Regions from separate parts of the Homo sapiens genome. Here all the other regions are linked to region 1. Evidence: fine-mapped expression QTL. A gene starts in region 1. Each other region holds a variant in brackets. All regions are shown on one strand. Distances are between the middles of the regions. Region 1 holds the start of NAPSA (napsin A aspartic peptidase). Region 2 overlaps SPIB (Spi-B transcription factor). Region 3 overlaps JOSD2 (Josephin domain containing 2). Region 4 overlaps POLD1 (DNA polymerase delta 1, catalytic subunit).

Region 1 (7,845 bases):
CTGCCTCAAAAAAAAAAAAAAAAAAAAAAAAAAAACACTAATGCGAGACCTCGGGAAGGTGCGATATAAGATCATAGAGGGAACGCAGGTCCGAACTTGAGGCCTTGTGGGGTCTGATGTGGCCCACAGTGCCTGAGAGTCACCCAAAGGGTCCCCCACTCTTGGACACACAACTGGACTACATTTCCGGGTCGTCCTTGCAGCCAGGAGCAACCACGTGACAGATTCCCACCAATGGAACAGGGGCAAAAGTAATCCTGGCAAAGACGATGCGAGGCATCTGGGCTGATTACTTGGTGTCTGCAGCTTCAAGAACCAGGTTCAATTCCCCTCCAAGTGCACCTGGGCTGCCTCCTCTTAATCTTGCTGCACCGCAGCAGCCCCTCCCCAACCCGGTAAAATGTGGGCGATAATTCCTTTCTTACAAGGTTAGTAAATAAAATGACGGGTTTAAAAATCTGGCAATCCTTTACCTAATCACTTCCTGAGGGGATTCGGGAAAGATTGTGTTGGGCGATTCTGGAAACTGTGCTCCTCTGATGGTGGAGGCCCACTCGGTCACAACCCCCTGAGAGACAAGACATGGGGAGATCCAGGTCCCATTGGCCGGGCCGTGTTCGGCAGGAGATCTCCCAGTACGCTTGGGCAGGGGAGTCAGGGAGGAAGCCTGTTCTGCTCCTTTTCCCGTGGGGTGCAGAGAGCGAGCAAGTCGGCATTCCAGGCGGTGGGAACTGCTAGGGCGGAAGCAGGAAAGCTGGAGAGAGCCTGGTGTTCCAGGGGTCCAGCTCTAGAAACGGGTGGCGGCTGGGGAATCTTGGCTGGGAAAACAGGCCCACACCTCCACCTTGTGGCCAATTGGGAATTTGCAGGCACGGCCTCTCAAACTACTTAAGGGCGCTTGGGTGCAGTTGGATGGGGTGCTGCAGACGGAAAGCGTGCGGGGCGAGTTGAAGGGGCCCAGATCGAGTGCTCTGACTGAGAAAACAAAGGGGGGTGGTGACAGTTATCAGGGACACGTTCGGCTGCTTCAGGAAAATCCCCCAGAGCAAGGAGTGCACAAAGTGGATCTTTACCATTATTTATGTATTTATTTATTTCTGTTGAGACAGTGTCTCACTCTGTCACCTGGGATGGAGTGCAGTGGCGTGATGACGGCTCACTGCAGCTTCAGCCTCCTAGGCTCAAGTTATCCTCCAGCCTCACCTTCCCCAGTAGCTGGGACTACAGGAGTGTGCCATTACGCCCAGATAATTTTTACATTTTTTTTGTACAGACAGGGTCTCCCTTTGTTGCCCAGGCTGGTCTCCAACTCCCAGGCGCAAGCGATCCTCCTGCCTCAGCCTTCCAAAGGGCTGGGATGACACCCCCAGCCTCCCAAACGCACCCCCACCGCACCTAGCCTTTCTTTTGTTTCTTTTTTTTTTTTTTTTTTTTTTGAGAGGGAGTCTTGCTCTGTCGCCCAGACTGGAGTGTAGCAGCGCGATCTTGGCTCACTGCAACTTCCGCCTCCCAGGTTCAAGTGATTCTCCTGCCTCGGCCTTCCGAGTAGCTGGGATTACAGGCGCTGACCACCACGCCTGGCTAATTTTTGTATTTTTAGTAGAGACAGGGTTTCACCATGTTGGCCAGACTGGCCTCGAACTCCTGACCTCAAGTGATCCGCCTGCCTCAGCCTCCTAAAGTGCTGGGATTACAGGCATGAGTTACCGCATCCAGCCGATTTCTAAGGGTTTTGACTCCAGTCCCTGGCTCACTGACTGTATCTCTGGACCCACCTGGGACCTGAGGTAACTTGATGCCCTGAAGGGAAGGATGCAAGCATGGCTGCCTTTGGAACCTGCTAGTTTTAGAGCCCAAGGGCCTTGAGCAAACATAAGCAGTAGGCAGGTAGGTCGTGGTTACAGGAGGCCATGGGCAGGACCCAGCGCAATCCCAGTGATAGTAGGCATGGGGTGTTTGTGTCACCCCACTCCCAGCTCCAGGTAGCTCAGCAGAGAGAGAGAGACAGAGACAGAGAGAGAGAGAGAGAGAGAGAGAGAGAGAGGGAGAGAGAGAGACTGACTCTGTTTGAGAGAAAGCAAGGGAAGAGAGCAAGAGTCTCTGCCTGGTAATCCAGATAAATCTTCTGGATCTTATCTAAGACCACTAAGATAGTACCTCTATGAGTTTGCAAGAACCACAGCATTAATGGGCTTGGGGAGCCCCCTAATGCAGACATGGCTTAGATCACAACACCCAAGTACTTTTGAATACCTGGAAAGCCTCCCCAAAAAGGACAGGTACAAACAAGCCTTGTCTGCAAAGACTACAATAAATACCTAACATGGCCAGGCATGGTGGCTCATGTCTAATCCCAGCATTTTGGGAGGCTGAAGCAGGAAGATCACCTGAGGTCAGGAGTTTGAGACCAGGCTAGACAACATGGTGAAACCCTGTCTCTTCTAAAAATACAAAAATTAGCTGGGTGTAGGCTGGGTGCGGTGGCTCATGCCTGTAATCCCAGCACTTTGGGAGGCCGAGGCAGGTGGATCACCTGAGGTCAGGAGTTCGAGACCAGCCTGACCAATATGATGAAACCCTGTCTTTACTAAAAATACAAAAACTAGCTGGCATGCGCCTATAATCCCAGCTACTTGGGAGGCTGAGACAGGACAATCGCTTGAACTCAGGAGGCAGAGGTTGCAGTGAGCCAAGATGGCGCCATTACACTCCAGCCTAGGCAATAAGAGTGAAACTCCATCTCAAAAAAAAAAAAAAAATTTAGCCAGGGTGGTATCGGGTGCCTGTAGTCCCAGCTACTCGGGAGGCTGAGGCAGAATTACTTGCACCTGGGAGGCAGAGGTTGCAGTGAGCTGAGATCACACCATTGCACTGCAGCTTGGGCAACAAGAGCAAAACTCCATCTAAATAAATAAATAAATAAATAAATAAATAAATAAATAAATAACTCATCAATGCCCAGCCACCAATGAACATCTATAAGCATCAAGGCCATCCAGAATAAATGACCTTACCAAACAAATCAAATAAGCCACCAAGGACCAATCCTTGAAGAAACAGAGATATGTGACCTTTCCGACAGAGAATTTAAAATAGCTGTTTTGAGGAAACTCAAAGAAATTCAAGCTAACACACAGAAGGAATTCAGATTCCATCACATAAATTTAACAAAGAGATTGAAATAATTGAGAATCAGCTGGGTGCAGTGGCTCACGCCTGTAATCCCAGCACTTTAGGAGGCTGAGGCGGGCGGATCACCTGAGGTCGGGAGTTCTAGACCAGCCTGACCAACATGGAGAAACCCTGTCTCTACTAAAACTACAAAATTAGTGGGGCGTGGTTGCGCATGCCTGTAATCCCAGCCTGGGCAACAAGAGTGAAACTCGGTCTCAAAAAAAAAAAAACCAAAAAACAAAAACAAAAACAAACAAACAAAAAACAATACCCAATGATCTGTTGTCAACAAGAAACATACTTCACCTACAAATAAAACAGTAAGAGACTGGGTCCTGAAATGCGGGCCCACTTCATATGTGAGGGCAGGTGTCTAATCATGTCCTTTCTCCCTTCCCCCAGGCCCTTCACAGATACCTGCTGGTCTCTCCCACTTGGCCAAGGAAACACTTGTGGTTAATAAGTCTCAGAAAAGTTATGTGAAAGTTAAAAGTAAAACTGACAGCAGCTGAAGGATGGGGGGGTGGGAGGTGGTGACGGTGGAGGAGACCCCACCACCACTGCCACCCAAGTAGGGAGTGAGGAGCACCAGGAGCACAGGATGCTACTTCTGCCAACCCTACAAAAATACTCTGCACAAATCTTCAAAAAACATCCTTGTCCCACTGCGTCACCTGCGGACAGATTTCATGTCCTGGTCTCCTTCTAAACCTGGAGGTGGGGCATGAACAGGGTGGAGTCACAGGGGAAAGAAAATGAGGCCCCAGGACACCTGGGTTCACACCCAGGTCCCCAGCGATGTCTCCACCACCGCTGCTGCAACCCCTGCTGCTGCTGCTGCCTCTGCTGAATGTGGAGCCTTCCGGGGCCACACTGATCCGGTATGGTGACCCCATCTACCACCCCAACCTTAGGAGGGATTTTCTGCCTCTTGCCCTTTAAGTCTAGGACTCCCAGTTCAGTGATCCCCAAACTTGGCACCCAGGATCCCTAGAGCTTCTTTCTCAGCTTTCCAGATCTCTAAACCAGGCTGTCACCCCTAAGGGCTCCACTCTGACATCTCTTAAGACCAGATTTCTTTTTTTTGAGATGGAGTCTCACTCTGTTGCCCAGGCTGGAGTGCAATGGCATGATCTCAGCTCACTGAAACCTCTGCCTCCTGGGTTCAAGCGATTCTCCTGCCTCAGCTTCCCAAGTAGCTGGGATTACAGGCTCGCGCCACCATGCTCAGCTAATTTTTGTATTTTTAGTAGAGACGGGGTTTCACCATGTTGGCCAGGCTGGTCTGGAACCCCTGACCTCGTGATCCGCTCACCTCGGCCTCCCAAAGTGCTGGGATTACAGGCGTGAGCCACCGCGCCTGGCTGACCAGAGCCCTTTTATTATTATTATTATTATTATTATTATTTATTATTATTATTATTATTTGAGACAGAGTCTTGCTCTGTTACCCAGGCTGGAGTGCAGTGGGGCGATCTCAGCTCACTGCAACCTCTGCCTCCCGGGTTCAAGTGATTCTCCTGCCTCAGCCTCCCAAGTAGCTGGGACTACAGGCACATGCCACCACGCCCGGCTAATTTTTGTATTTTTAGTAGAGATGGGGTTTCGCCATGTTTGCCAGGCTGTCTTGAACTCCTGACCTCAAGTGATCTTTCCGCCTCAGCCTCCAAAAGTGCTGTGGTTACAGCTGTGAGCCCCCGCGTCCGGTCCCAGAGCCCTTTTAAGTCCCAGATCTTACAACACTGAGACTCTAGATTGAGGACCCCTCCCCCTCCTCTCAGGACTTTTTTTTTTTTTTTTTTTTTGAGACTGAGTCTCACTCTGTTGCCCAGGCTGGAGTGCAGTGGCGCAATCTTGGCTCACTGCAAGCTCTGTCCCCCGGGTTCACATCATTCTCCTGCCTCAGCCTCCCAAGCAGCTGGGACTACAGGCACCCGCCACCACGCCCGGCTAATTTTTTGTATTTTTAGTAGAGATGGGGTTTCACAGTGTTAGCCAGGATGGTCTCGATCTCCTGACCTCGTGATCCACCCACCTCAGCCTCGCAAAGTGCTGGGATTACAGGCGTAAGCCACCGCGCCTGGCCTTTTTTTTTTTTTTTTTTTGAGACGGAGTCTTGCCCTGTCGCCCAGGCTGGAGTGCAATGGCGCGATCTCAGCTCACTGCAACCTCCACCTCCCAGGCTGACACCATTCTCCTGCCTCTGAAAGTGCTGGGATTACAGGCGTGAGTCACCATGCCCGGCTAATTTTTTTTGTATCTTTAGTAGAGATGAGGTTTCACCATGTTGGCCAAGCTGGTCTTGAACTCCTGACTTCGTGATCTGCCTGCCTCAGCCTCCCAAAGTGCTGGGATTACAGGCGTGAGCCACTGCGCCTGGCCAGGACATGTTTTTGAGAGGTCTCTGCAGACCCTACTATGAGCTCTGATGATTAGGTACTGTGGTTTCCAGACCTGTGACACACTCCTCCCATCTTCGAGCCCCAGATATGTGACATTTAAACTGAGACTCCCCCACATCACGCCCATCAAACTGGCCTGAAGAAGTCATGTTTTTGGCCAGAGACATGGCTCACACCTGTAACCCAGCACTTTGGAAGTCCAAGGTGGGAAGCTTGTTTGAGGCCAAGAGTTTTGAGACCAGCCTGGGCAACATGGCCAGACTCCACCTCTACAAAAAATACAAAAATTAGCTCAGTGTGGTGGTGCACACCCATGGTCCCAGCTAGTTCAGGAGGGTGAGGAAGGAGGATTGCTTGAGCCCAGTAGTTCGAGGGGGCAGTGGGCTATGATCCTGCTACTGCACTCCAGGCTGGGCAACAGGGTGACACCTTGTCTAAAAAAAAAATTAATAAATAAAATAAAATAAAATAAAAAGCCAGGTGTGGTGGTGTGCCCATAGTCTCAGCTACTCCAGAGGCTGAGGTGGGAGAATCACTTGAGCCCTGGAGATCAAGGCTGCAGTGAGCCCTGACTGCACTACTGCACTCCAGCCTGGGTGACAGAGGGAGACCCTGTTTCAAATAAAAAGTTTAAAAGAAGAAAAAGAAATCCAATCTTGGGGACCCTATGCAAGAAGTCTTCCCACTACCTTACCTCTGATGTCCCCTCCCCGCCCCCATCTCTCTTTTTCTCCTCTCTTGTCTTCATTCCCTGGAACTCTTGGTAGGGGGAGGGGTGTACACTTCCAGGAAGAGTTTTCCCCACTTCACATTCTCGTGCCTCTCAAAGACTGACTCATGGGGGGTGACGGGAAAGGTGTGAGTGATGTGACAAGTGCTTCAAGGAGTGACTAAAGGCAGGAACGAAGATATTACCGCACATGGTGCTTGTTAACCTGCTTTTTGAACCTAATGTCTCATGGCCATTTTCTAAGTCAATGCAAAGAAAATGAGTCTCCAAATGTTGTATCAACAGCATCGTCATGACCTGGGAACTTGTTAGAAATCCAAATTCTCGGCTCCATCCTAGACCTACTTAATTAGCAACTAAGATACCTGAATTGTAATTGGCCCTCTAAGTCAAGGGTTGCAAACACTCAGCTTAAGGGCCAAATCCTGTTTGCCTCCTGCTTTTGCAAATACAGTTTAAAGGAACCCGGACAGGGCATAGTGGCTCTCCTCTGTAATCCCAGCACTTTAGGAGGCTGAGGCCAGGAGTTTGAGATCAGCACGGGCAACACAGCAAGACAATTAAGATTTGACGCTTACATTTTTCTCCTCAAGGGTGGGGAAAATAGTCCCTAACCTCACGAACTGAAGCATGCAGGGGCCACCACCCAAGGGCTTTTGCAAAGGTTAGGTTTTCTGTTAGGGTCTTGGGAAATCTTTAAGAATGTCAATTCCTTGGGAATAGCTTATTTTAAGGGATTTGGACATGGAAAGGTCTGTTTGGGATGGTTTGCTCTTGTAAAGTCTTTGGGGATATTTGTCATCATGGCATCTTTGATGGGCTTTTCTGGAGGTTGTTATTGCAGGGTTTCTGGTACTGACTACTATTGTAGTGCCTTGGAGATGTTGAATTTGTCATCATATCCTATTTGGGTAAGTCTATTTAGAGGTTCTCCAAGAAGGGCAGCTTCCTGTCAATATCCTCTTTCCCTACAGCATCCCTCTTCATCGAGTCCAACCTGGACGCAGGATCCTGAACCTACTGAGGGGATGGAGAGAACCAGCAGAGCTCCCCAAGTTGGGGGCCCCATCCCCTGGGGACAAGCCCATCTTCGTACCTCTCTCGAACTACAGGGATGTGAGTCACAGCCCCACACAGCCCTCACCCCTGCGCCCTTGAGCCAAACTCTTCGTTTACTCTCCTCTTTTGCTATCAGGTGCAGTATTTTGGGGAAATTGGGCTGGGAACGCCTCCACAAAACTTCACTGTTGCCTTTGACACTGGCTCCTCCAATCTCTGGGTCCCGTCCAGGAGATGCCACTTCTTCAGTGTGCCCTGCTGTGAGCTTCTATGTGGGAGAATAAGGCTGAATGGGGGTGAAGGGAGGAGGCGGGGCTGGACCTCAGCTTCTCAGAGGCTTTTGAGGAACTGTTCTTTTATCATGCCCTCACAGGTCAGAAAGTCAAAGGGGCAGTAGGCACTGGGGAGATTCCCTCCCCCATGACACCTTTCTGACCTCTAACCTAGGGTTACACCACCGATTTGATCCCAAAGCCTCTA
Region 2 (7,845 bases), 60 kb before region 1:
CTCGTGATCCGCCTGCCTCGGCCTCCCAAAGTGCTGGGACAACAGGCATGAGCCACCGTGCCCGGCCTTGTTTTTGTTTTTAAGACGGTGTCTCACTCTGTCGCCCAGGCTGGAGTGCAGTGGCACGATTACAGCTCACTACAGCCTCCTACTTCCTGGGCTCAAGAGATCCTCCCACCTCAGCCTCCTGAGCAGCTGGGACCACAGGTGTTCACCCCCACGCTCGGCTAATTGTTTTTGTTATGTTTTGTAGAGACGAGGTCTCATTATGTTGCCCAGGCTGGTCTTGAATGCCTGGGTTCAAGCCATTCCCCCTGCCTCGCCTCCCAAAGTGCTGGGATTACAGGTGTGAGCCATTGCCCAGCTGATGGCCTGCTGTTAATGTGGATCCCTCACACCTCCACCACCAAGTGCTACAGTGCACTAAAGAGACCACCACCAGCGACCGGGGCCTCGGTTGGGGGGCAGGGGGGTGACGACCTTGAGACTTCTGGTTAGAAATGACATGGGTGGGGAGCTGCCATGATCACCCAAAATCAGTCGCGTGGCCAGAGTGGTCTTCAGCATGGCCATAGGGAGTGGCACTAGGAAGGGTAGGATCCCCATGAGAACTCAGTCTTTGTGGGGTCCCTGAAAGGGCATATCAGATGGAGAGCCTAGGAGGTCTCAGATGTGATTGGAGGATCCCAGATATAACAAGGGTGTCCCTGACAGGGCCCAGACATGACACATTTCACTGACTCCCCATCCTCCACCCCAGACCTCTCAAGAGTGATTTCAGACATGACAAAAGGATCTTGGAGGAGCCCTAGATGTGATTGGGGAACTCCAGACACATAAAAAGGGGCAGCAGAATAGTTCCAGAGAATTGGGGGATCTCAAAAATGAGGGGACAGATGTGACAACACAGCCATAGATGGGCGAAGAGATCTGAGATGATAACAGCTCCCAGAGGGCCCCAGACATAACTAGGAAATCTCAGATCTGACAAGAGGGAACCTTGGACAGGGCTCAGGGTTGCCAGCAGGGCCCCCACCCCAGATGAGATTCAGGGTTTACAGACACACAGCGATCTTAAAAACGTCCCAGGCCTCACTGGGGAATCAGATATCACAAGAAAATCCCAGAGAAGCTCTTGGGATTCTGGAAGAACTGCTACCCTGCCTCCCCGAGTATAGTGGTCCATAGGTCCTGTCACCCAAAACATGAGGATCCCAGGGAGTCTGTACATGACAAAGAAATCCCAGAGGACCCCAGGCACAAGTGGGGAATCCCAGACAGGCCCGGGCTGGGCTTGGGGATTATGGCAGGGCAGCACTCCCCTTACCCCAAAAGGTGGGGATGCGTAAGTCCTATCACCTAGAGTGTGGGGACGCCCTTTTTCTTCCAGGGGGATCCTGGCTGGGACGTGAGGTCCCCCAGCGGCTCCGCAGGTGGGAGCCTCGGGTGTGCTCAGGCCCGGCGGACTGCAGGCAGCAGCGCGCTGTCGAACTGGTAGGTGAGCTTGCGCTTGACCTTGCGGATCTCGCCGGTCTTGGCGTAGTTTCGGAGGGCGCGCGCCAGCTTCTGGTAGGTCATGCGCTTGCGGTTCCCCTTCTGCTGGCCCCAGCGGCGCGCCAGGAGTTCCTTGTGCTTGGAGGAGAACTGGAAGACGCCGGCGCCTGGCTCCACCCACCACACGCACTCACGCATGTCCCCGCGCGTCAGTAGCCCCAGCAGGAACTGGTACAGGCGCAGCTTCTTGCGAGTCCCTGCGGTGGGGTCGGGGGCACGCGTTAGGTGAGGGGTCCCTAAGGCCCCGCCTTCCCCATCCACCCTCCTCCGAGACTTCCACCCCGGCCTCCATCTCCTGGATCTGAAAAGTGGGGTGAGGGAAGTGGCTGTTACATACACCTGGCTCTGCGCCCCTCACCACGGGGGGGGGGGGGGGCAAGCCACTCCCCCTGCCCGAAGCTGTCAGCCCCAGGCCCCCTCCGCGTTCTGTGCTTTAATTTTCGAGATTTACATCTGTCCTGCCTTCCGCCCTGCGGCCAGCACGTAATATTCCATATTTGTTGAGCTAGTGGATGAAAGAATCTGTGAAATGGGTTGACAGCGCCGCTTAAAGGATTATAACGGAGAGGCGAACAGATCTGGAGGCAGTTGCATTGGCCTGGCTATCTCTCCAGCTCCTGGTCTCCCAGCCTCTCAGCCCAAAGCGGGACAGGGTCCCGGGAGAGGCCAGGGCACCTGACTCCTGGGCTCCTAGGGTTTAGTTTGTTTTTGAGACGGGGTCTTGCTCTGCGGCCCAGGCTGGAGTGCAATGGCGCAATCTCGGCTTACTGCAGCCTCTGCCTCCTGGGTTCGAGCAATTCTGCTGCCTCAGCCTCCCGAGTACCTGGGACTACAGACGTCTGCCACCATGCCCGGCTTATTTTTATATTTTTAGTAGAGACGGGGTTTCGCCATGTTGGCCAGGCTGGTCTCGAACTCCTGGCCTCAGGTGATCCGCCCACCTCGACCTCCCAAAGTGCTGGGATTACAGGCATGAGCCACTGCGCCCGGCCAATAACTGGGAGTTTCAAAGCAGGGCACTGGCTACAAGAATCCCATCTCTGCCATTTTACAGCAGTGTGACCTTGGGGTGGTGACGTAGTGACATCTTAATTTCTTTTTTTTCAAGGCAGGGTCTCGTTCTGTCACCCAGGATGGAGTGCAGAGGAGCAATCACAGCTCACTGCAGCCTCGACCTCCTGGGCCTAAGCAATCCTCCTGCCCCAGCCTCCCCAGTAGCTGGGACTACAAGTATGCACCATCATGCCTAGCTAATTGTTTTATTTTTTGTAGAGATGGTGTCTTACTATGTTGCCCAGGCTGGTCTTGAACTCCTGGCCTCAGGTGATCCTCCCACCTCGGCCTCCCAAAATGCTGGGATTACAGGTGTGAGCCACTGCACCCGGATTGAATTCTTATAATTTTAGGCTGCCTCGGCATTCATCGAAAGTATAAGTTGGAGGCTGGGCGCGGTGGGCCATGCCTGTGATCCCAGCACTTTGGGAGGCCAAGGTGGGCAGATCACTTGAGGTCAGGAGTTCGAGACAAGCCTGGCCAACATGATGAAACCCGGTTTCTACTAAAAATACAAAAATTAGCTGGGTGTGCTTGGCTCATGCCTGTAATCCCAGCTACTTGGGAGGCTGAGGCAGGAGAATCACTTTAGCCCAGGAGGCAGAGGTTGCAGTGAGCTGAAATCATATCATTGCACTCAGCCTGGGCAACAAGAGCGAAACTCCCTCTCAAAATAAAATAAAATAAAACTAAATAAAAGTTGGACATTCTCATGCTGGAAGCAGGGCTGTCCTCCTTGGCAGTTCTACATCTCCCTCCCCGAGTTCCTCAGTGTGGCTGACCCAGATATCTCTCTTATGCAACTGACTCCTGGTGACCACCTCCCTGTGGGAGAGCCATGGACAGCCTACTTGACGGCCCTGCATGGACTGTGCAGATGCCTCAGTGACCCCCTCTCAGGCACAGCGTGACCTCCTGGAACTTGATCCTGCTTGCTTTCAACCCACCAAGTATTTATTTATTTATTTATTTTGAGCTGGAGTCTTGCTCTGTTGCCCAGGCTGGAGTGCAGTGGCATGATCTCAGCTCACTGCAAACTCTGCCTCCTGGATTCAAGCGATTCTCCTGCCTCAGCCTCCCAAGTAGCTGGGATTACAGGCGTGCACCACCAGGCCCAGCTAATTTTTGTATTTTTAGTAGAGACGGGGTTTCACCATGTTGGCTAGGCTGGTCTTGAACTCCTGACGTTAGGTGATCTACCAGCCTCAGCCTCCCAAAGTGCTGGGATTATAGGCATGAGCCACTGTGCCTGGCCTGAACCCACCAATTAAAACCCCCTCAGGAAACCTGTTTGGCCGACGCCTTGGACCCAATAAAGGCGTCAGTCCACTGGTCCCTCTCTCTCTCCCTCCCTGCCTGCGCTCCCTGACCTGGTGTGTGTGGCCTCCAGGCGTGCCATGTATGCCCCAGGACCTATAAGCCATAAAATAATTTATTTCTGGCTGGGTGTGGTGGCTCATGCCTGTAACTTCAGCACTTTGGGAGGCTGAGGTGGGAGGAGCA[C/T]ATAGGCTCAGGAGTTGGGAGTTCAGCCTGGGCAACATAGCGAGACCTCACCTCTACAAAAATTTTAAAAATTAGTCAGGTGTGGTGGTGTACGCCTGTGGTCCTAGCTACTCAGGAGGCTGAGGCAGGAGGATCGATTGAGCCCAGGAGTTTGAGGCAGTAGTGAGCCGAGATTGCGCCACTGCGCTTCAGCCTGGGTGACAGATGGAGACCGTCTCAAATAAATGAATAAAAATAAATAAAATCTTTATTTCCATCTTGTGTCTTTCCTAGTCATTGGAGAGATCCTCTCCATCTTAAATGTCCTAAGTTAAAATAGGTGACTTAATTAACCTCTCTGAGCTGAAGTCTCTCAGCCACAAATGAGGCTGTGTGGCTGGGCACAGTGGCTCACGCCTGTAATCCCAGCACTTTGTGAGGCCGAGACGGGCGGATCACCTGAGGTCAGGAGTTTGAGACCAGCCTGGCCAGATGGTGAAACCCCATCTCTACTAAAAATACAAAAAATAGCTGGGTATGGTGTGGGTGCCTGTGATCCCAGCTACTGCGGAGGCTGAGGCAGGAGGATTGCTTGAACCCAGAAGGTGGAGGTTGCAGTGGGCCGAGATCGTGCCACTGCACTCCAGCCTGGGTAACAGAGCGAGACTCTGTCTCAAAAAATAAATTAATTAATTAATTAAAATTTTTTAAATGAGGCTGTGGTTTTGTTTGTTTGTTTTTGAGACGGAGTCTTGCTCTGTCACCCAGGCTGGAGTCCAGTGGTGCAATCTCAGCTCACTGCAACCTTTGCCTCCTGGGTTCCAGCAACTCTCCTGCCTCAGCCTCCTGAGTAGCTGGGATTACAGGCATGTACCACCATGCCCCATTAATTTTTTTTTCTTTCTTTTTTCTTTTTTTTTAAGACAGAGTCTTACTCTGTCGCCAGGCTGGACTGCAGTGGCAAGATCTCGGCTTACTGCAACCTCTGCCTCCTGGGTTCAAGCGATTCTTCTGCCTCAGCCTCCCGAGTAGCTGGGACTACAGGTGCACACCACCACGCCTAGCTAATTTTTGTATTTTTAGTAAATGTGAGGTTTCACCATGTTGGCCAGGATGGTCTCGATCTCTTGACCTCGTGATCCATCCTCCTCAGCCTCTCAAAGTGCTGGGATTAAAGGCATGAGCCACCATGCCCAGCCTAATTTTTGTGTTTTTAGTAGAGACGGGGTTTTGCCATGTTGGCCAGGCTGGTCTCGAACTCCTGACCTCAGTTGATCTGACCGCCTCAGCCTCCCAAAGTGCTGGGATTACAGGCGTGAGCCACCACACCCAGCCTGTGTGTTGATTTTTACAATGCACCGTGGAGCATGTAGTGCCAGGTGCTTCACAAGGCACTTTACAGTTATGAGCTCATTGAATCTCCATCATAACCCCGTGAGATGGGGAGGATGACAGTGATGCCCACTTTACAGACGAGAAACCGAGGCCCAGACACAGAAAGGAAGGAACGATCTCAGCTTTCTTGGGGTTGAGCATAAAGGATGTTGGGCACACGGGCAGGGGGCAAGGGTTGAACCGTTGGGGGTTGATAGCATTATCATTTCTGTTGCTGTGGTGTCGGGAATGATGGTGAAGAGGTTGACTTATTGAAGTGCTCACTCTGTGCCTGGCACTGCTGTCCCATTTACACTTACTATCCCATTTAGTCCCCCCAACGACCTCAGGAGGGTAGACACTATCACCTCCATCCCCATCGCACAGACAGGAAACCTGGGCACAGAGAGGTAGAGGCACTTACCCAAGGTCACACAGCCAGCAGGTGGTGCGGATCTGGGAGCTGCCCAGAGTGCTGGAGTATATGTAGAGGCCCAGGAAGCCATGGTGCTCTCAGCCCCCCCACCATCTCCAGCTGGCATCTCCCCCACCCCAGCCACTCCCGCATACCTGCCTCGGATCCCTTCCCCTCGGGGCCAGCCACGAGGGCCTCATCCGACTCGCTGTCCGAGACCTCCAGGGCAGGGCTGTCCAACGGTAAGTCTTCCTCCTCTGATAGCACAGGGCTGGGGTACGGGGCATATGCCGGGGGAACCAGGGTCTGCGGAAGGTCAGGGTCACCTGCATGTCCAGGGACCCCTTGTCTCCCTCCACTTCCTCCTCTCAGGCCAAGGCGGTGGCCCTCCTGGCTCTGGTCTCCCTCTTTGTTGACAGCCTAGATTTTGGCCTTTGTTCAGATCACCACGCTGTGGCCAGGGGACACCTGAGGTACCTCCTCAAAGCCGGCCCAACACAGGTAATGCGAGTCTGCCCTGTCCCTGGCTTCCTGTCACTACCTCTCTTGACTCACTTGTTCAGAGGGGCAACAACGGAACGTAACCTGGGAGGCCGCTGCAGGGCTTACTATGTGCAGTCTCAATGCAGTGCCCGGCACCCAGCAAACCTCAACCAAATGACTGAGCTTGAGTTTTCTTTTCTTTTTCTTTTTTTTTTTTTTTTTTGAGACAGGGTCTTGCTCTGTTGCCCAGACTGGAGTGCAGTGGATTGCCTCGACCTTCTGGGCTCAAGCAATCCTCCTCCCACCTCAGCCTCTCAAGCAGCTGGGATTACAGGCGTGCACCACCACACCTGGTTTGGGCTTGATTTTAACTGTCCCCTTACCACTCACCTGGCTAGCGAAGTTCTCCGTGGGGTATGCAGGGAGGCCAGGCCCCGGGGCCTCCAGGCTGGGGGCCAGTTCGAGGTTCCCTGCAGGGCTGTAGGTGGGGGGTTCGTAGCAGAGCTGGGCAGCCTGGGGGTGGCTAAAAGCGGCTGCTGCCGGGTCGAAGGCTTCATAGGGGGTGGCTGGGACAGGTGGGGCCACAGTCCAGTCCCACAGGGAGTCTGGGGGAAGGGCACTGAGTCAGAAGCTGGGATGTCTCACGGAGGCCTCCTCGCAGTCGAAGCCCCCAGCACAGAGAGGCCATTGTAGGCTGTGCAAATCTCTGACCCCAGGATTTGCATGGAGGAGCGGATGGGTAGGAGAGGAAAGGGGAGGAGGGCTATAGGCCCGGGCCACCTTTATCCTGTTGTGCTAGGAAATGACCTCCCCTGGGCCTCAGCTCCCCTATCTGTGAAATGGGCCCCAAGGCAGGAAGGGCACAGGGCTGGGGTCACTCACCAGGAGCCCCCTCTGAATCAGGGTAGCTGGAATGCTTGCAGCTGTCCAGGTCATAGAAGACGCCATCTGGGTACTGATACGGGGTGCAGGAGGGAAGAGGGGTCATCCCAGGCCTTGGGGACTCCCAACCCCCACCCTGGACCCTTGGGGAGACTCCAACACAGACATGGGAGAGAAGAGGGGATGCTGGAGAGATTAGAGCAACAAAGAAACACAGAGACTAGGCATCAGAGACAGGGACAAAGAGACAGAGATACAGAGAGTAGAGACACAACCCAATAGGGGCACACAGCAGCCAGCTCCTGCTAAGACGGTGGGCTCCCAAGAACCCTGGCCCCTCACTGGCACACAGTCAGCGAATCAGGGCGCCTGGAGAAGGGGTGGAAGAACTCCCCCAGCCTTGCCTGCCTGGGGGCTCCGGAGGTGAAGGGCAAGGGGAAATGGAAGTGTTTCACTTAACAGAGGCAGGGGTCAATGCTTTTTAAATACACCTCCAGGCCAGGCGTGGTGGCTCACGCCTGTCATCCCAACACTTTGGGGGGCCGAGGCGGGCAGATCACCTGAGGTCAGGAGTTCAAGACCAGTCTAGCCAACATGGTGAA
Region 3 (7,845 bases), 140 kb before region 1:
AGTGTCGGGAACCAGGGTGGCTGATTAAGGAACACCTCTGGGTGGGCTCAGGAGGCCCTCACCACCACCAGCCTGGGCCCCACATGTTCAGCAACATTTCACCGGCGGGCGGAGCAGGCCCTGATGGCAGTGTCCCCTCCCTGCCCACACAGGCCCCTGTCCCAGCTGGCCCTGCCCCAGGTACTGGGGCTGATCCTGAACCTGCCCTCGCCCGTGTCGCTGGGGCTGCTGTCACTGCCGCTGCGCCGGCGGCACTGGGTGGCCCTGCGCCAGGTGGACGGTGTCTACTACAACCTGGACTCCAAGCTGCGGGCGCCCGAGGCCCTGGGGGATGAGGACGGAGTCAGGTGAGCCCCACAGAGGCGATTCCAAGACCAGGGGCCTGAAACCCCACTCCCCAGACGGAATGCCCAGGCTGGCCGAGCCTCAGTCTCCCCATTTCTCCCACCCAGGGCCTTCCTGGCGGCTGCGCTGGCCCAGGGCCTGTGCGAGGTGCTGCTGGTAGTGACCAAGGAGGTGGAGGAGAAGGGCAGCTGGCTGCGGACAGACTGACCATGGCTGACCATCGGCGCCCACAGCGCAGTCCCTGCGCATCCCCCTCCGGCTGCGCACACTGCATGCCTGGGAAAGGCCAGCACTTCATGGACCCTGGGGAGGCCCCGCCCCCTCCCCACACCCCTGCTCCCCACTGCCGCTGCTGCCTCAATAAATCTGCTGATTTGCTGCCTGCCTGGCCTGTGTCTGACGGCCCCACCCTTCTGGGGCCCCTTCCACTCAGTGACTCCCACTTACCTTACAGGCCAGACACCCTGGTGTGTGGGGCCGAGAGCCCAGGAGGCCTCCTGGTTCTCTGCCACCTCATGCCAGTTTCTCACTGCTGGGCCTCAGTTTCCTCATCAGTGACACAGCAGAAAAAAACACAAGTCCGTGCCCCCTGGGGCTCACGCTCCTCCGGTGCTGGAGAGAGACCAGTGGCAAACAAATGAGTTTGATCTCCTGGGTTCCACGGGGGTCATTGCTAAGGAGAAAGCAGGTGTTTACTTCTTTATTTGATTGATTGATTGAGACAGGGGTCTCACTCTGTCACCCAGGCTGGAGTGCAGTGGGTCAATCACAGCTCACTGTAGCCTTGAACTCCTGGGCTCAAGCGACCCTCCCACCTCAGCCTCCCAAGTAGCTGGGACCACGGGTGCATGCCACCATACCTGACTACTTTCTTTAAATTTTTTTGTAGAGATGGGATCTCGCTTTGTTGCCCAGGCTGGTCTTGAACTCCTGACCTCAAGCAATCTGCCTGCCTCTGCTTCCCAAAGTGCTGGGATTATAGGTGTGAGCCACCATGCCTGAGTTTACTTCTTGACTCTCGATTCTATTCCGTTGATTGGCAGGCGGGCAGAACAGTGGCCCCAAAGATGTCCACACCCTGGCCAGATGTGGTGCCTCATGCCTGTAATCACAGTGCTTTGGGAGGCTGAGGTCCACAAGTATGAGACCAGCCTGGGCAACATAGCAAGACCCTGTCTCTAAAAAAAAAAAAAATTAAAATAAGTGGCATGTGAGGCTGGTGGCTCACGCCTGTAATCTCAGCACTCTGGAAGGCCGAGGCGGGTAGATCACCCGAGGTCAAGAGTTCAAGACTGGCCAGGCGCGGTGGCTCATGGCTGTAATCCCAACACTTTGGGAGGCTGAGGCAGGCAGATCACGAGGTCAGGAGATCGAGACCATCCTGGCTAACACGGTGAAACCCCGTCTCTACTAAAAATACAAAAAAATTAGCCAGGCATGGTGGCGGGCACCTGTAGTCCCAGCTACTTGGGAGGCTGAGGCAGGAGAATGGCATGAATCCGGGAGGCAGAGCTTGCAGTGAGCCAACATTGTGCCACTGCACTCCAGCCTGGGCAACAGAGCGAGACTCTGTCTCAAAAAAAAAAAAAAAAAGAGTTCAAGACCAGCCTGGCCAACATGGTGAAACCCCATCTCCACTAAAAATACAAAAATTAGCTGGTTGTAGTGGCGGGTGCCTGTAATCCCAGCTACTCAGGAGGCTGAGGCAGGAGAATCGCTTGAACCCAGGAGATGGAGGTTTTGGTGAGCCAAGATCGCACCACTGCACTTCAGCCTCGGCAACAGAGGAAGACTCTGTCTCATAAATAAATAAGCGGGACATGGTGGCCAGCACCTATAATCGCAGCTACTTGGGAAGCTGAGGCAGGAGGATTGCTTGAGCCCAGGAGGTTAAGGCTGCAGTTAGCCATGATCGTGAGTAAGAGAGATCTTGTCTCAAAAATATAATAGCCCAGGCATGGTGGCTTACACCTGTAACCCTAGCACTTTGGGAGGCAAAAGCAGGAGTATCACTTGAGCTCAGGAGTTTGAAACCAGCCTGGGCAACATAGTGAGACCCCGTCTCTACAAAAAATTTTAAAATAAGCTAAGCATGGTGGTGCACACCTGTGATCCCAGCTACTTGGGGGGTGGAGGCAGGAGGATCACTTGAGGCCAGGAGGTCGAGGCTGTAGTAAGCCATGATCGAATCACTGCACTCCACCCTGGGTGACAGAGTGAGACCCTGTCTCAAAAAAATAAATAAAAATAAATATAATAGACCAGGCACGGTGGCTCACGCCTGTAATCCCAGCACTTTGGGAGGCCAAGGCGGGCAGATCGCGAGGTCAGGAGATTGAGACCATCCTGGCTAACATGGTGAAACCCCGTCTCTACTAAAAATACAAAAAAATTCGCTGGGCGTGGTGGTGGGCACCTGTAGTTTCAGCTACTGGGGAGGCTGAGGCAGGAGAATGGCGTGAATCCAGAAGGCAGAGCTTGCAGTGAACCAAGATCGTGCCACTGCACTCCAGCCTAGGTGACAGAGTGAAACTCCGTCTCAAAAATAATAATAATAATAATAATAGGCCAGGTGCCGTGGCTCACGCCTATAATCCCAGTACTTTGGGAGGCCGAGGTGGGTGGATCACGAGGTAAAGGGATCGAGACCAGCCTGGCCAACATGGTGAAAACCCCATCTCTACTAAAATTACAAAAATTAGCCAGGTGTGGTGGTGCACGCCTGTAATTCCAGCTGCTCGGGAGGCTGAAGCAGGAGAATCACTTGAACCCAGGAGGTGGAGGTTTTGGTGAGCCGAGATTGCACCACTGCACTCCAGCTTTGGCAACAGAGGAAGACTCTGTCTCATAAATAAATAAATAAGTGGGACGTGGTGGCCTGCGCCTGTAATCACAGCTACTTGGGAAGCTGAGGCAGAAGGACTGCTTGAGCCCAGGAGGTTAAGGCTGCAGTTAGCCATGATCGTGAGTAAGAGAGACTTTGTCTCAAAATATAATAGCCCAGGCATGGTGGCTCACACCTGTAACCCTAGCACTTTGGGAGGCAAAAGCAGGAGGATCACTTGAGCTCAGGAGGTCGAGGCTGTAGTGACCCATGATCGAATCACTGCACTCCACCCTGGGTGACAGAGTGAGACCCTGTCTCAAAAAAATAAATAAAAATAAATATAATAGACCAGGCACGGTGGCTCACGCCTGTAATCTCAGCACTTTGGGAGGCCGAGGCGGGCGGATCATGAGGTCAGAAGACTGAGACCATCCTGGCTAACACGGTGAAACCCCGTCTCTACTAAAAATACAAAAAAATTAGCCAGGCATGGTGGCAGGCGCCTGTAGTCTCAGCTACTGGGGAGGCTGACGCAGAATGGCGTGAATCCAGAAGGCGGAGCTTGCAGTGAGTGGAGATCGTGCCACTGCACTCCAGCCTGGGTGACAGAGTGAGGCTCCATCTCAAACAAACAAACAAAAAATTAGGCCAGGTGCAGTGGCTCACGCTTATAATCCTAGCACTTTGGGAGGCTGAGGTGGGTGGATCACAAGGTAAAGAGATTGAGACCATCCTGGCCAACATGGTGAAAACCCCATCTCTACTAAAATTACAAAAATTAGCCAGGTGTGGTGGCACATGCCTGTAATCCCAGCTACTCAGGAGACTGAGGCAGGAGAATTGCTTGAACCTGCAAGGCGGAGGTTGCAGTGAGCCGAGATCGCACCAACTGCACTCCAGTCTGGGTGACAGAGTGAGACACCGTCTCAAAAAAAAAAAAAATTAGCCAGGCATGGTGGCAGGTACCTGTAATCCCAGCTACCTGGGAGGCTGAGACAGGAGAATCGCTTGAACCCAGGAGGCGGAGGTTGCAGTGAACTGAGATCGCGCCATTGAACTCCAGCCTCAGCAACAAGAGTGAAACTCCATTTCAAAAAAAAAAATTAATTAAAATAAATACAGTTAAAAGATGCCTTGTCCTAATCCCTGGAGCCTGTGAATATGTTGTGTTACTTGGCCAAGGGAGAGTGAGGTTGCGAGTGGGACTGGGACAGGGAGAGTGTCCTGGATCCCCCGGTGGGCCCCGGGTCATCACGAGGGTCCCCACAGCGGAGGAGGGACGCCTGTGCTGACGGGAAGTGTCGGCCCACCCTCCCAGCTCCCACCCTGTGGGGAGACCCAAGGGGACACCAAGAGTTTCTGTCCCAGCAGTGGGGGCTTTTATGGGGTTCCCACAGAGCACTGCAGGGACGAGAGAACAGAGAAGGGACCCCGGGACAAGCAAGTCGCATAAAATGGCCCAGAGACAAGGCTGGCCACGGAAGGCTGAGGAGGGCTCTGCAGAGGCTGGCGGGGCACGGGAGGGCACTCCAGAATTGGAAGTCATCCCGGATGAGACCTGGAACGCCACGGCTGTTTATCGCCAGAGTTATTTGAGGAGGTGATGAAGGAGGAGGGTGGGTCCCGGCCAGGAACCCAACCAGGCGGGACCTCCAAGGGCAGCCTGGGAGCTG[C/T]GAGAAGGGAAGGACAGGTCAGCTCTGGGTGCAGAGACCCCTCTGGGGCTGCAGGCACAGAATGGAGGGGGAACCAGAAGCCAGGAGGCCCGGGAGGAGGCTGGGAGGGGCGAGGCAGGGCTTGAGCTAGGCCCCTGAGGGCGACAGAGAGGAGGGTCTGAGGCTGGTGGGCCCTGGGAGGTGAGGAGGCAGGAATGAGTGGAAGGTGTCCAGGGGCCTGGATGAACCTGGGGATCCCCGTTAGGCACCTGCAGAAGTGGGGGACTCAGGCACAGGGAGGCAAGGGGTCCCTGGCTTGGGGTGTGTCCCCTCCTGGAGCCACAGGCCCATGCGCCCAGGCAGGCAGTTCATCCAGGCAGCCCACAAGCTGCCCATGCACCCCTGGCAAGGTGGAGCTGATGCCCCGCAGGACACACTCATGAAAGCCCTGGCTGCGCATGGACCAGGGTGTGGCAGGTTCTGGTTTGCAAGTTTTCCCAAGGTCAAAGGGCAGGTCGTAAAGTTAAAAGCCAGACAGCACCGGAGGGGAAACTGCTGGGGGTTGCAGACTCCCGAACGGCTCTGGCCCCATCCCATCCAGATCCCTGCACCTCCTGCCCGCCCACCGGGCTCCCCACGCCTCTGCTGGTGTGGGTCTCGCTCTCTGCCCCATCTGGGTGTCTGGCCCCGGGCCCCTGGCTAACCCCCTCTGTCTCTGTGTCTCCCTCTCTCGCTTCGCCTGTCTCAGCCTCCCTTCTCTATCTCTCTTGCTGGGCATTTCTCTCCACCCCTCTCTGTCTCTTTGACCCTGTCTCTCTGTCTCTCCCACGGTCTCTCTCAGTCTCTCCTCAGCTCGCTGTCTCTCCCCTCTGTCTGTGTCTCTCCCCTTCTCTCAGTGCCCCTGGGCCCCTCCCTGCCACCCTGTGCCTGTCGCCTGTCCCATCGCAGGTCCCAGACAGACTGGCGGGGGCCTGAGTGTTGCTATTCTTGGGCCTGAGTGGCAGGCGGGGCTGTGGCCCCCAGGTGCGTCCTGGGCTATGGCCAAATAAGGTCCGGAGTGAGGAGCCCCGGGAGGAGGAGCTGGGGGCGCTGGGGGTGGGGGGAGAGGGGCCAGCTGACCTCCTCCTGCTCCCACTCCCTCCTGCCCCAACCCCCATATTCTGGCAGGTGAGAGCGGGCAGGACAGACCAGGTCATTGCATCAACTAAGCACTTACTGTCTGCCCCTCACAGTGCAGAGCGCCTGTGCCCCCACCCGCTGGGACTGCTCTTCCCAGGGGAGCGCCTCAGGACTCAGAGGGCTACCGCTTGCCCCAGGGCACCCGGCCAGGCCTGTCCCAGAGCTGAGGGGGCTGGGGCGCCCCGCACAGATGCCAGTGGCCTCTCCACACCCCCAGGCTGCAGAAAGGGAGAGGGAGGGGCTGTGGTCAAGAGGCAGGCGCAGGGCAGGTGCGGGGGGAGGGGGACAGCTGTCCCACACCCCCTGGTGGTGACAGCTGCTGCCCGATTTAGCTCACAGAGCCGGGTCTGGCCAGATAAGGCAGTTGGGTGGGGGGGCGGTCTCACCCCCAGGGCACCCCTTAAATCGCACAGTCGGGCCCAGGGTTCAGCTGCCACCGACGCCAGGTGAGAGGGGCTGTTCTTTCCTCGACCTCCTGCCGCAAGGCTCCGCGCGTCTTCTCTCGCTGTCTCCCTCCGTCTCTCTCTCCCTCTCTCTCTCCGTCTCCCTCTCTCCCTGTCTCTCTCTCCCTCTGTCTCCCTCTCTCCCTCTGTCTCTCTCTCTCCCTGTCTCTCTCTCCGTCTCTCTCTCTCCCTCTGTCTCTCTCTCCGTCTCCCTCTGTCTCTCTCTCTCCATCTCTCTCTCTCTTTCTCCCTCTCTCCCTCTGTCTCTCTCTCCGTCTCTGTCTCCCTCTCTCTCTCTCTGTCTCTCTCTCCCTCTGTCTCCCTCTCCCTCTGTCACCCTCTCTCCCTCTGTCTCTCTCTCTCCCTGTCTCTCCCTCTGTCTCTCTCTCTCCATCTCTCTCTCTCCGTCTCTCTCTCCGTCTCCCTCTGTCTCTCTCTCTCCGTCTCTCTCTCTCCCTCTCTCCGTCTCTCTCTCTCCGTCTCTCTCTCTCCCTCTCTCCCTCTGTCTCTCTCCGTCTCTCTCTCCCTCTCTCTCTCTCTCCTTCTCTCTCCCTCTCTCTGTCTCTCTCTCCCTCTGTCTCTCTCTCCGTCTCTCTCTCTCCGTCTCTCTCTCTCCCTCTGTCTCTCTCTCCCTGTGTCTCTCTCTCCCTGTCTCCCTCTGTCTCTCTCTCCCTGTCTCTCTCTCCCTGTCTCTCTCTCTCCGTCTCTCTCTCCCTCTCTTTCTCCGTCTCTCCCTCTGTCTCTCTCTCCCTCTCTCTCTCTCTCCCTCTGTCTCTCTCTCTGTCTCCCTCTGTCTCTCTCTCTCCGTCTCTCTCTCCCTCTCTTTCTCCCTCTCTCCCTCTGTCTCTCTCTCCGTCTCTGTCTCCCTCTCTCTCTCTGTCTCTCTCTCCCTGTCTCTCTCTCCCTCTGTCTCTCTCTCTCCCTCTGTCTCTCTCTCTCCCTGTCTCTCCCTCTGTCTCCCTCTCTCCCTCTGTCTCTCTCTTCCTGTCTCTCTCTCTCCCTCTGTCTCTCTCTCTCCCTGTCTCTCCCTCTGTCTCCCTCTCTCCCTCTGTCTCTCTCTCTCCGTCTCTCTCTCTCCCTGTCTCTCTCTCCGTCTCCCTCTGTCTCTCTCTCCGTCTCTCTCTCCCTCTCTCCGTCTCTCTCTCTCCGTCTCCCTCTGTCTCTCTCTCCGTCTCTCTCTCTCCCTCTCTCCGTCTCTCTCTCTCCGTCTCTCTCTCTCCCTCTCTCCCTCTGTCTCTCTCCGTCTCTCTCTCTCCCTCTCTCTCTTTCTCCCTCTCTCCCTCTGTCTCTCTCTGTCTCTGTCTCCCTCTCTCTCTCTCTCTCCTTCTCTCTCCCTCTCTCTGTCTCTCTCTCCCTCTGTCTCTCTCTCCGTCTCTCCCTCTCCGTCTCTCTCTCTCCC
Region 4 (7,845 bases), 26 kb before region 1:
GCACCTATAATCCCAGCACTTTGAGAGGCCGAGGCGGGTGGATCACTTGAGGTCAGTTGTTTGAGACCAGCCTTATCAACATGGTGAAACCCTGTCTCTACTAAAAAAAAAAAAAAAAAAAATTAGCTGGGCATGGTGGCGCACACCTGGAACCCCAGCTACTTGGGAGGCTGAGGCAGGAGAATCCCTTGAACCTGGGAGGTAGAGGTTGCAGTGAGCCAAGACTGCGCCATTGCACTCCAGCCTGGGCAACAAGGGTGAAATTCTGTCTCAAAAAACAAACAAACAAAAACAAAGTACTTGTCCCCCAGGGTCCAGGCTGAGACAGAGGGGATTACTGGAACCTAGGGCAGATCCTAGATGCGGCTGGGAAGAGGCAGGTGAGCAGGTCAGCTGTCTATCCCTGGATCTCATAACGGTTGCCCCATATCCAGTCCTCATTTTGCCTTTTTATTTTACTTATTTTTTTTTTAGACGGAGTCTCACTCGGTCACACAGGCTGGAATGCAGTGGCTGATCTCGGCTCACTGCAACCTTCGCCTCCTGGCTTCAAGCGATTCTCCTGCCTCAGCCTCCCGAGTAGCTGGGATTACAGGCGTCCACCATCATACCCGCTAATTTTTTTTTGTATTTTTAGTAGAGATGGGGTTTCACCATGTTGGCCAGGCTGGTGTGGAACTCCTGACCTCAGATGATCCGCCCGCCTCGGCCTCCCAAAGTGCTGGGATTATGGGTGTGAGCCACCGCGCCCGGCTTTGCTTTGCTTTTTTGCAATAGAACACACCCCTCCAACCCTGCGTGTCCGGAGTGGCCACAGGCTGCCCAGCCAAAGGCTACATTTCCCAGTGTGCGCTGCCAGGAGGGCCACGTGACTAAGTTCTCCCTCCAGGAATGAGAGTGATCATGAGGTGTGCAGCTACTGGGACATCCTCCCACCCTCTTCCCCGTCACAGTGGCTGGAACATGGATGTAGTGGGAGAGCCAACCACAAGGACAGGGACAACACTGGGCTCCCCAACAACCTTCCAGAGCAAAGCTGTCTGCCAACCCTGCACACTTGCCTATCTTCCAAAGCGTTATGTGGAGAAATCAATTTGTATCTTTCTTGGGCCACTGTGTTTTGGGGGCTCCTTGGTACAACAGCTTAGACCTGAAATAAGCATGGAAAAATTCTGAACTGATGGAGTATATGTTAGAAATGTTCAGGGAGGTTCATAACAGACACTCAGCATTAGAGAGGGGCCAGCTCCTGACAGACATGCAACACGGATGAATCTTGAAAGCAGGCTGTGCAGAAGGCAAAGTGCACACTGGGGGAATGAGGAGTGACTGCTTACGGAGTATGGGGTTTTCTGTAGGGGTGATGAAATGTTTTGAAACTAGACAGAGGTAATGGTTGTACAACACTGTGAACGTACCAACTGAATTCTTTGCTTTATTATTACTTTCTCTCTTTATTGAGACAGGATCTCACTCTGTTGCCCAGGCTAGAGTGCAGTGGCATGATCTCAGCTCACTGCAGCCTTGACCTCCCGGGCTCAGGTGATCCTCCCACCTTGGCCTCCTGAGTAGTTATGAAGACAGATGCGTGCCACCATGCCTAGCCAATTGTTTTTTGGTAAAGACGGGTTTTGCCATGTTGCTGAGGCTGGTCTGAAACCCCTGGGCTCAAGTGATCTGCCTGCCTTGGCCTCCCCAAAGTGCTGGGATTACAGGTATGAACCACCACGCCCAGCCATTGTTTGCTTTAAAATGGCTAATTTTACCTCCATAAAAATTGTACAATACCATTTAGACAAAGTTGTAGAATACACTAAAGTGATCTACAGCGCTAGAAATCAGACTAGTGGCTGCTCCTAGGGTAGGAGAGACTGGGAAGGGTATGAGGGGGTTTCTGGGGTGATAAAACACACTATACAGCTGACTGTACACTGGAGACCTGGGCATGGCACGCCATGTAAATGCCACCTCAATTATAAACATAAAAGTTTGGAGGCTCAATTCCACATCTAGGGACGTACACTGTAGATATATTATCACATAAGAAAAACTGCATTTATAAGGTTATTTCCGGAAGCATCGTTTGAAATCCCCAAGGACTGGAAACCACCTAACTGTCCTCCCCCAGGGGGCTATTTAAATATGTTAAGTCCGTTCAATGGAATACTATGCAACTGTGTAAAGGAATGAGGAAGCTCTTTGTGTACTGATAGGGAAGGTTCTCAAAGAGGCATTGTTCAGTAGATAAAGCAAGATGCACAGTGGTGCACTCACAATTTTATCTTTTGTGTTGAAAAACAATGTCTAAGAAAACGTTTACCCTGATTCTAGTCATTAAGAAACAAACAGCCTGGGTGCAGTGGCTCACGCCTGTAATCCCAGCATTTTGGGAGGCCAAGGAGGGTGGATCACTTGAGGTCAAGAGTTCCAGACCAGCCTGACCAACATGGTGAAACCCCATCTCTACTAAAATACAAAAATTAGCCAGGCGTGGTGGTGGGTGCCTGTAATACCAGCTACTTGGGAGGCTGAGGCAGGAGAATCACTTGAACCTGGGAGGCAGAGGTTGCAGTGAGCTGCGATCACGCCACTGCACTCCAGCCTGGGTGACAGAGCAAGACTCTGTCTCAAAACAAAACAAGAAAAAGAAACAAACGAATCCAAGGTGAGGGGTGACAACACTGGTCTGTAATCTTTAAAACTGTCGATGTCATGAAAAAGTAAGTTGCCTGGGCTAGGAGGCTCACGTCTGTAATCCCAACACTTTGGGAGGCTGAGGTGGGATGATCACTTGAGGCCAGGAGTTAGAAACTAGCCTAGGCAACATGGTGAGACTCCATTTCTACAAAAAATTAAAAATTAGTCAATCTCTACAAAAAATTAAAAATTACTTAAGCATGGTGGTGCATACCTACAGTCCCAGCTACTTGGGAGACTGAGGTGGGAGGATCACTTGAACCTGGGAGGTGAAGGCTGCAGTGAGCCATGACTGCACCACTGCAATACAGTCTGGGCAAGAGAGCAAGACATGTCTTAAAAAATGAAAAAGTTGCCATGACAATGTGTGTTATCCTAGGTTAGAACTTGGATTAAAAAAGTAAAATGATGGGCCAGGTGCAGTGGCTCACGCCTGTAATCCTAGCACTTTGGGAGGCTGAGGCAGGCCGATCACCTGAGGTCAGGAGATTAAGACCAGCCTGGCCAACGTGGTGAAAACCCCGTCTATACTAAAAAAAATACAAAAATTAGCTTGTCATGGTGGCGGGCGCCTATAATCCCAGCTACTTGGGAGGCTGAGGCAGGAGAATCGCTTGAACCTGGGAGGCG[G/A]AGGTTGCAGTGAGCCAAGATTGCGCCATTGCACTCCAGCCCGGGCAACAAGAGCGGGGGAGTGGGAAAAAAAAAGACCTCTCCCTCTCCCTCCCCCTCCCCCTCCCCCCTCTCAGTCTCCCTCTGATGCCGAGCTGAGGCTGGACTGTGCTGCCGCCATCTCGGCTCACGGCAACCTCCCTGCCTGATTCTCCTGCCTCAGCCTGCTGAGTGCCTGGGATTGCAGGCACGCACCGCCATGCCTGACTGGTTTTTGTATTTTTTGGTGGAGACGGGGTTTCGCCGTGTTGGCCGGGCTGGTCTCCAGCTCCTGACCGCGAGTGATCTGCCCGCCTGGGCCTCCCGAGGTGCCGGGATTGCAGACGGAGTCTCGCTCACTCAGTGCTCAATGGTGCCCAGGCTGGAGTGCAGTGGCGTGATCTCGGCTCGCTACAACCTCCACCTCCCAGCCGCCTGCCTTGGCCTCCCAAAGTGCCGAGATTGCAGCCTCTGCCCGGCCGCCACCCCGTCTGGGAAGTGAGGAGCATCTCTGCCTGGCCGCCCAGTCTGGGAAGTGAGGAGCGCCTCTTCCCAGCCGCCATCCCGTCTAGGAAGTGAGGAGCGTCTCTGCCCGGCTGCTCATCGTCTGAGATGTGGGGAGCGCCTCTGCCCCGACGCCCCGTCTGGGATGTGAGGAGCGCCTCTGCCTGGCCGCCACCCCGTCTGGGAGGTGTACCCAGCAGCTCATTGAGAACGGGCCATGATGACGATGGCGGTTTTGTCGAATAGAAAAGGGGGAAATGGGAAAGGAAAGAGAGATCAGATTGTTGCTGTGTCTGTGTAGAAAGAAGTAGACATAGGAGACTCCATTTTGTTCTGTACTAAGAAAAATTCTGCCTTGGGATGCTGTTAATCTACGGCCTTACCCCCAACCCCGTGCTCTCTGAAACATGTGCTGTGTCCACTCAGGGTTAAATGGATTAAGGGCGGTGCAAGATGTGCTTTGTTAAACAGATGCTTGAAGGCAGCATGCTCCTTAAGAGTCATCACCACTCCCTAATCTCAAGTACCCAGGGACACAAACACTGCGGAAGGCCGCAGGGCCCTCTGCCTAGGAAAACCAGAGACTTTTGTTCACTTGTTTATCTGCTGACCTTCCCTCCACTATTGTCCTATGACCCTGCCAAATCCCCCTCTCCAAGAAACACCCAAGAATGATCAATAAATACTAAAAAAAAAAAAAAAATAGTTCTCAAGAATAACTGTAGAATGTGCTAGGAATGCAATATCCTGAGATAAGGAGGGACTGGCTGAAACAGCCCAGGCTCTGTTCCAGTCCCTCCTAGAAACAGGATGTCCTTCATCATTTTAGCCCAACATGTCATGTTGCCTCCAGAATATAAAACCCAAGATGGTCTGCTTTCCAGGTACAAATGGGGTACACACAAATGAGACTCCATCCTCCCGGGGCAACCTTCCTGAGTCTCGGGAGATTGGCTCACAATGAATCCTATGCTTCGGTTTTCCCTTGTTGCCTAGCTGTAAATAATAAATTTACTTCATGTAACTTGAAAAAAAAAAAAGAAAAGAAAAGAAAAAAAGAAATTATTGGCCAGGCGCAGTGGCTCACACCTGTAATCCCAACACTATGAGAGGCTGAGGTGGGTGGATTACCTGAGGTCAAGAGTTTGAGACCAGCCTGGCCAACATGGTGAAACCCTGTCTCTACTAAAAATATAAAAATTAGCTGGGCGTGGTGCCAGGCGCCTGTAATCCTAGCTACTCGGGAGGCTGAGGCAGGAGAATTGATTGAACCTGGGAGGTGGAGGTTGCAGTGAGCCAAGATCGCACCACTGCACTCCAGCCTGGGTGACAATGAGGCTCTGTTTCAAAAAAGAAAAAAAAAACAAAACAAAAAACAAAAAAAAAAACAGGCTGGACATGGTGGCTCACGCCTGTAATCCTAGCACTTTGGGAGCCCAAGGCGGGCGGATCACCTGAGGTCAGGGGTTCGAGACCAGCCTGGCCAAAATGAAACCCCGTCTCTACAAAAAATACAAAAAAATTAGCCGGGCGTGGTGGTGCATGCCTGTAATTCCAGCTATTCGGGAGGCTGAGGCAAGAGAATGGCTTGAACCCAGGAGGCAGAGGTTGCAGTGAGCCGAGATAGTGCCACTGCACTCCAGCCTGGGCGATAGAGCAAGACTCAGTCTTGGAAAAAAAAAAAAAATAAGAAATTATTTATAGCCTTGAAGAATATTACAGGGACACGTGGCAGATCTAAATAAGAATCGTCTATTCAATAACGTCACTGTCTCATGTTAAACTGCATGATGATGACAATGACACTGTAGTTCTGCAGGCGGACATCCCTGTTCTTAAGAGCTGACTGCTGGAGGCCAGGTACGGTGGCTCACGGCTGTAATCCCAGGACATTTGGAGGCCGAGGCAGGGGGATTGCTTGAACCCAGGAGTTTGAGATCAGCCTAGGCAACATGGTGACACCCTGTCTCTATAAACAATATAAAAATTAGCAGGGTGTGGTGGCACACACCTTTAGTCCCAGCTACTCGAGAGGCTGAGGATCAGCTGAGCCTGGGGAGGTCGAGGCTGCAGTGAGCTGTGACCACCCCACTGCACTACAACCTGCATGACAGAGTAAAATACTGTACCAAAAAAAAAAAAAGAGGCCAGGTGCGGTGGCTCATGCCTGTAATCCCAGCACTCTGGGAGGCAGAGGCACGTAGATCATAAGGTCAGGAGTTCAAGAGCAGCCTGGCAAAGATGGTGAAACCCCATCTTTACTAAAAATACAAAAATTAGCCAGATGTGGTGGTGCGCGCCTATAGTCCCAGCTACTCAGGAAGCTGCAATAGGAGAATCGCTTGAACCTGGGAGGCAGAGGTTGCAGTGAGCCAAGGTCGCACCACTGTACTCCAGCCTGGGTGACAGAGCAAGACTCCGTCTCAAAAAAAAAAAAAAAAAAAAAAAAAGAGTTAACTGCTGGAGTTTTCAGAGGTGAAGTATCATGATGACCACAACTTTCAAATAGTTCAGCCAAAAAAAGGACAAAAGGTACAGGTATATGCATGTGCTTGGATAAAGCATAAAGCAAATGAGGTGTCATGCCAACAGCCAGTGAATCTAGGCAAAGGGCCATGGCTGTTCACTGTACTCAATTTGTACCTTCTCTGCAGGTTTGAAACTTTTCAAAATATTAAGGGGGAAATATATAAAATGAAAATAGTAACAAATTTACAAGGTGGGCAGAAGAGTATGTAGAAATCTTTTTGCTTTTAATGCAGGGAGTATGTAGACGTCTTTTTTATTGTAATGCAGGGAGTATGTAGACGTCTTTTTTATTGTAATGCAGGGCATATGTATAAATCTATTTGCTTTTAATGCATCATTCTATAAGGAGAGCTAAGAAACTGGTTTCCTGGGGGACAGGGTAGAAGACTTCATTTGCTAACTGCTTTATTGAGCTATAATTCACATACTATACAATTCACCCATTTAAAGTATATATAGTTCAATGGTATTTAGTATGTTCAGAGTTAGGCAACCATCACCACAGTCAATTTTAGAACTCTCTCATCACCCCAAAAAGCCTAAATCCTTTAGCTCTCTCCCTGCATTCAGCCCATCTGCCCCCACCCCTGGCAGCCACTCATCTAACTTTCTGTCTCCATGGATCTGCCTATTCTGGGCATTTCCTATAAATGGGATCTTGGAATATGCAGCCTCTTGTGTCTGGCTGCTTTCTCTGAATGTGTTCATCGCTCATGTGTGTGGCGGCCTTTCGTCAGTGCTGTGTCCCTTTTTTGCTGAGTACTTTTCCGCTGTATGGCTAGAACACGTCTGACGTATCCCTTCATCAGTGGATGGACATTAGGGTTGCTTCCACCTTTTGTGAGTGGTGCAGCCGTGAGCGTGTGCAGGGGGTTTTGTGTGAGGAAGACTTTGACTGCGTTTGTGCTCTTTGGGTGACAACCGCGTACATGTGTGACTTACAGGAAGAAGCAAGCGTCGTTAGCGGCTCTGGCTTCGGGTTGTGCAAGTAGCCAGAGAGGGACAGGGAGTGATGATCTGCGAGGAGAGACCCGGGTGGGACAGAGGAAGCGCAGGGGCTTGTGGGAGCCCAGAGTCAGTGCTGAAGCTGGAGGAGGAAGGAAGGAGCTGACTGGCTGCCCTTGGTCAGTTGGCTGTGGCTGCGGGGGTGCGGTGGGAGGGACGGTGTCACCAGGGGCAAAACCTGGGCTCTTGTTAGTGGAGGCACAGCAGCATTAGGAAGGAAAGGCCCCTGTGTGTCCCCTCTCATTGGCCCTGGCACAGGATGAGAGCTTGGCAAACACTGTCCTCTGCCCCTCTCACGACCCTTCGGTAGCAAGCACTTAACAGAGATTCAGCAACAAAATGACACCACGTGCTCGCTGCAGGCCAGACACCAGTTTTCTCGATGAGTGAGACACTCATTTCCTCAATGACCTCATCCAATCTTGCCCAATCTCACAGCTTTATTTTTATTTATATATTTTT

What was found. PIP is the estimated chance that this variant, and not a neighbour inherited with it, causes the effect. A credible set is the group of variants that fine-mapping cannot tell apart.
Region 2: its variant is the best candidate, but not a certain one, in a credible set for the expression of NAPSA in whole blood (TOPMed, PIP 0.67).
Region 3: its variant is the best candidate, but not a certain one, in a credible set for the expression of NAPSA in whole blood (TOPMed, PIP 0.50).
Region 4: its variant is the best candidate, but not a certain one, in a credible set for the expression of NAPSA in whole blood (TOPMed, PIP 0.55).

What each region holds. Positions count from the first base shown.
Region 1 is chr19:50,361,749-50,369,593 of GRCh38, reverse strand. It overlaps NAPSA (napsin A aspartic peptidase), which reads left to right and starts at 3,955. Exons shown (of 9, transcript NM_004851.3): 1 at 3,955-4,055; 2 at 7,281-7,422; 3 at 7,502-7,625; 4 at 7,813-7,845. The coding sequence starts at 3,973. The region is part of intron 3 of LOC105372437 (a long non-coding RNA gene); the gene reads right to left. RefSeq lists enhancers at 752-811, 3,605-3,754.
Region 2 is chr19:50,421,944-50,429,788 of GRCh38, reverse strand. It overlaps SPIB (Spi-B transcription factor), which reads right to left. Exons shown (of 6, transcript NM_003121.5): 3 at 7,244-7,316; 4 at 6,752-6,966; 5 at 6,034-6,184; 6 at 1-1,751. The coding sequence ends at 1,453. Among named protein-coding and RNA genes, the nearest start is that of SPIB, 6.9 kb to the right of the region's middle. RefSeq lists enhancers at 1,141-1,430, 986-1,558, 1,559-2,132. The variant C/T (reference allele first, on the strand shown) is at 4,111.
Region 3 is chr19:50,498,880-50,506,724 of GRCh38, reverse strand. It overlaps JOSD2 (Josephin domain containing 2), which reads left to right. Exons shown (of 5, transcript NM_001270639.2): 4 at 153-347; 5 at 453-727. The coding sequence ends at 552. Among named protein-coding and RNA genes, the nearest start is that of JOSD2, 8.4 kb to the left of the region's middle. RefSeq lists an enhancer at 4,731-5,394 and silencers at 6,205-6,254, 6,355-6,404. The variant C/T (reference allele first, on the strand shown) is at 4,846.
Region 4 is chr19:50,387,280-50,395,124 of GRCh38, reverse strand. All of the region lies in intron 1 of POLD1 (DNA polymerase delta 1, catalytic subunit), which reads right to left. Among named protein-coding and RNA genes, the nearest start is that of POLD1, 6.9 kb to the right of the region's middle. The variant G/A (reference allele first, on the strand shown) is at 3,328.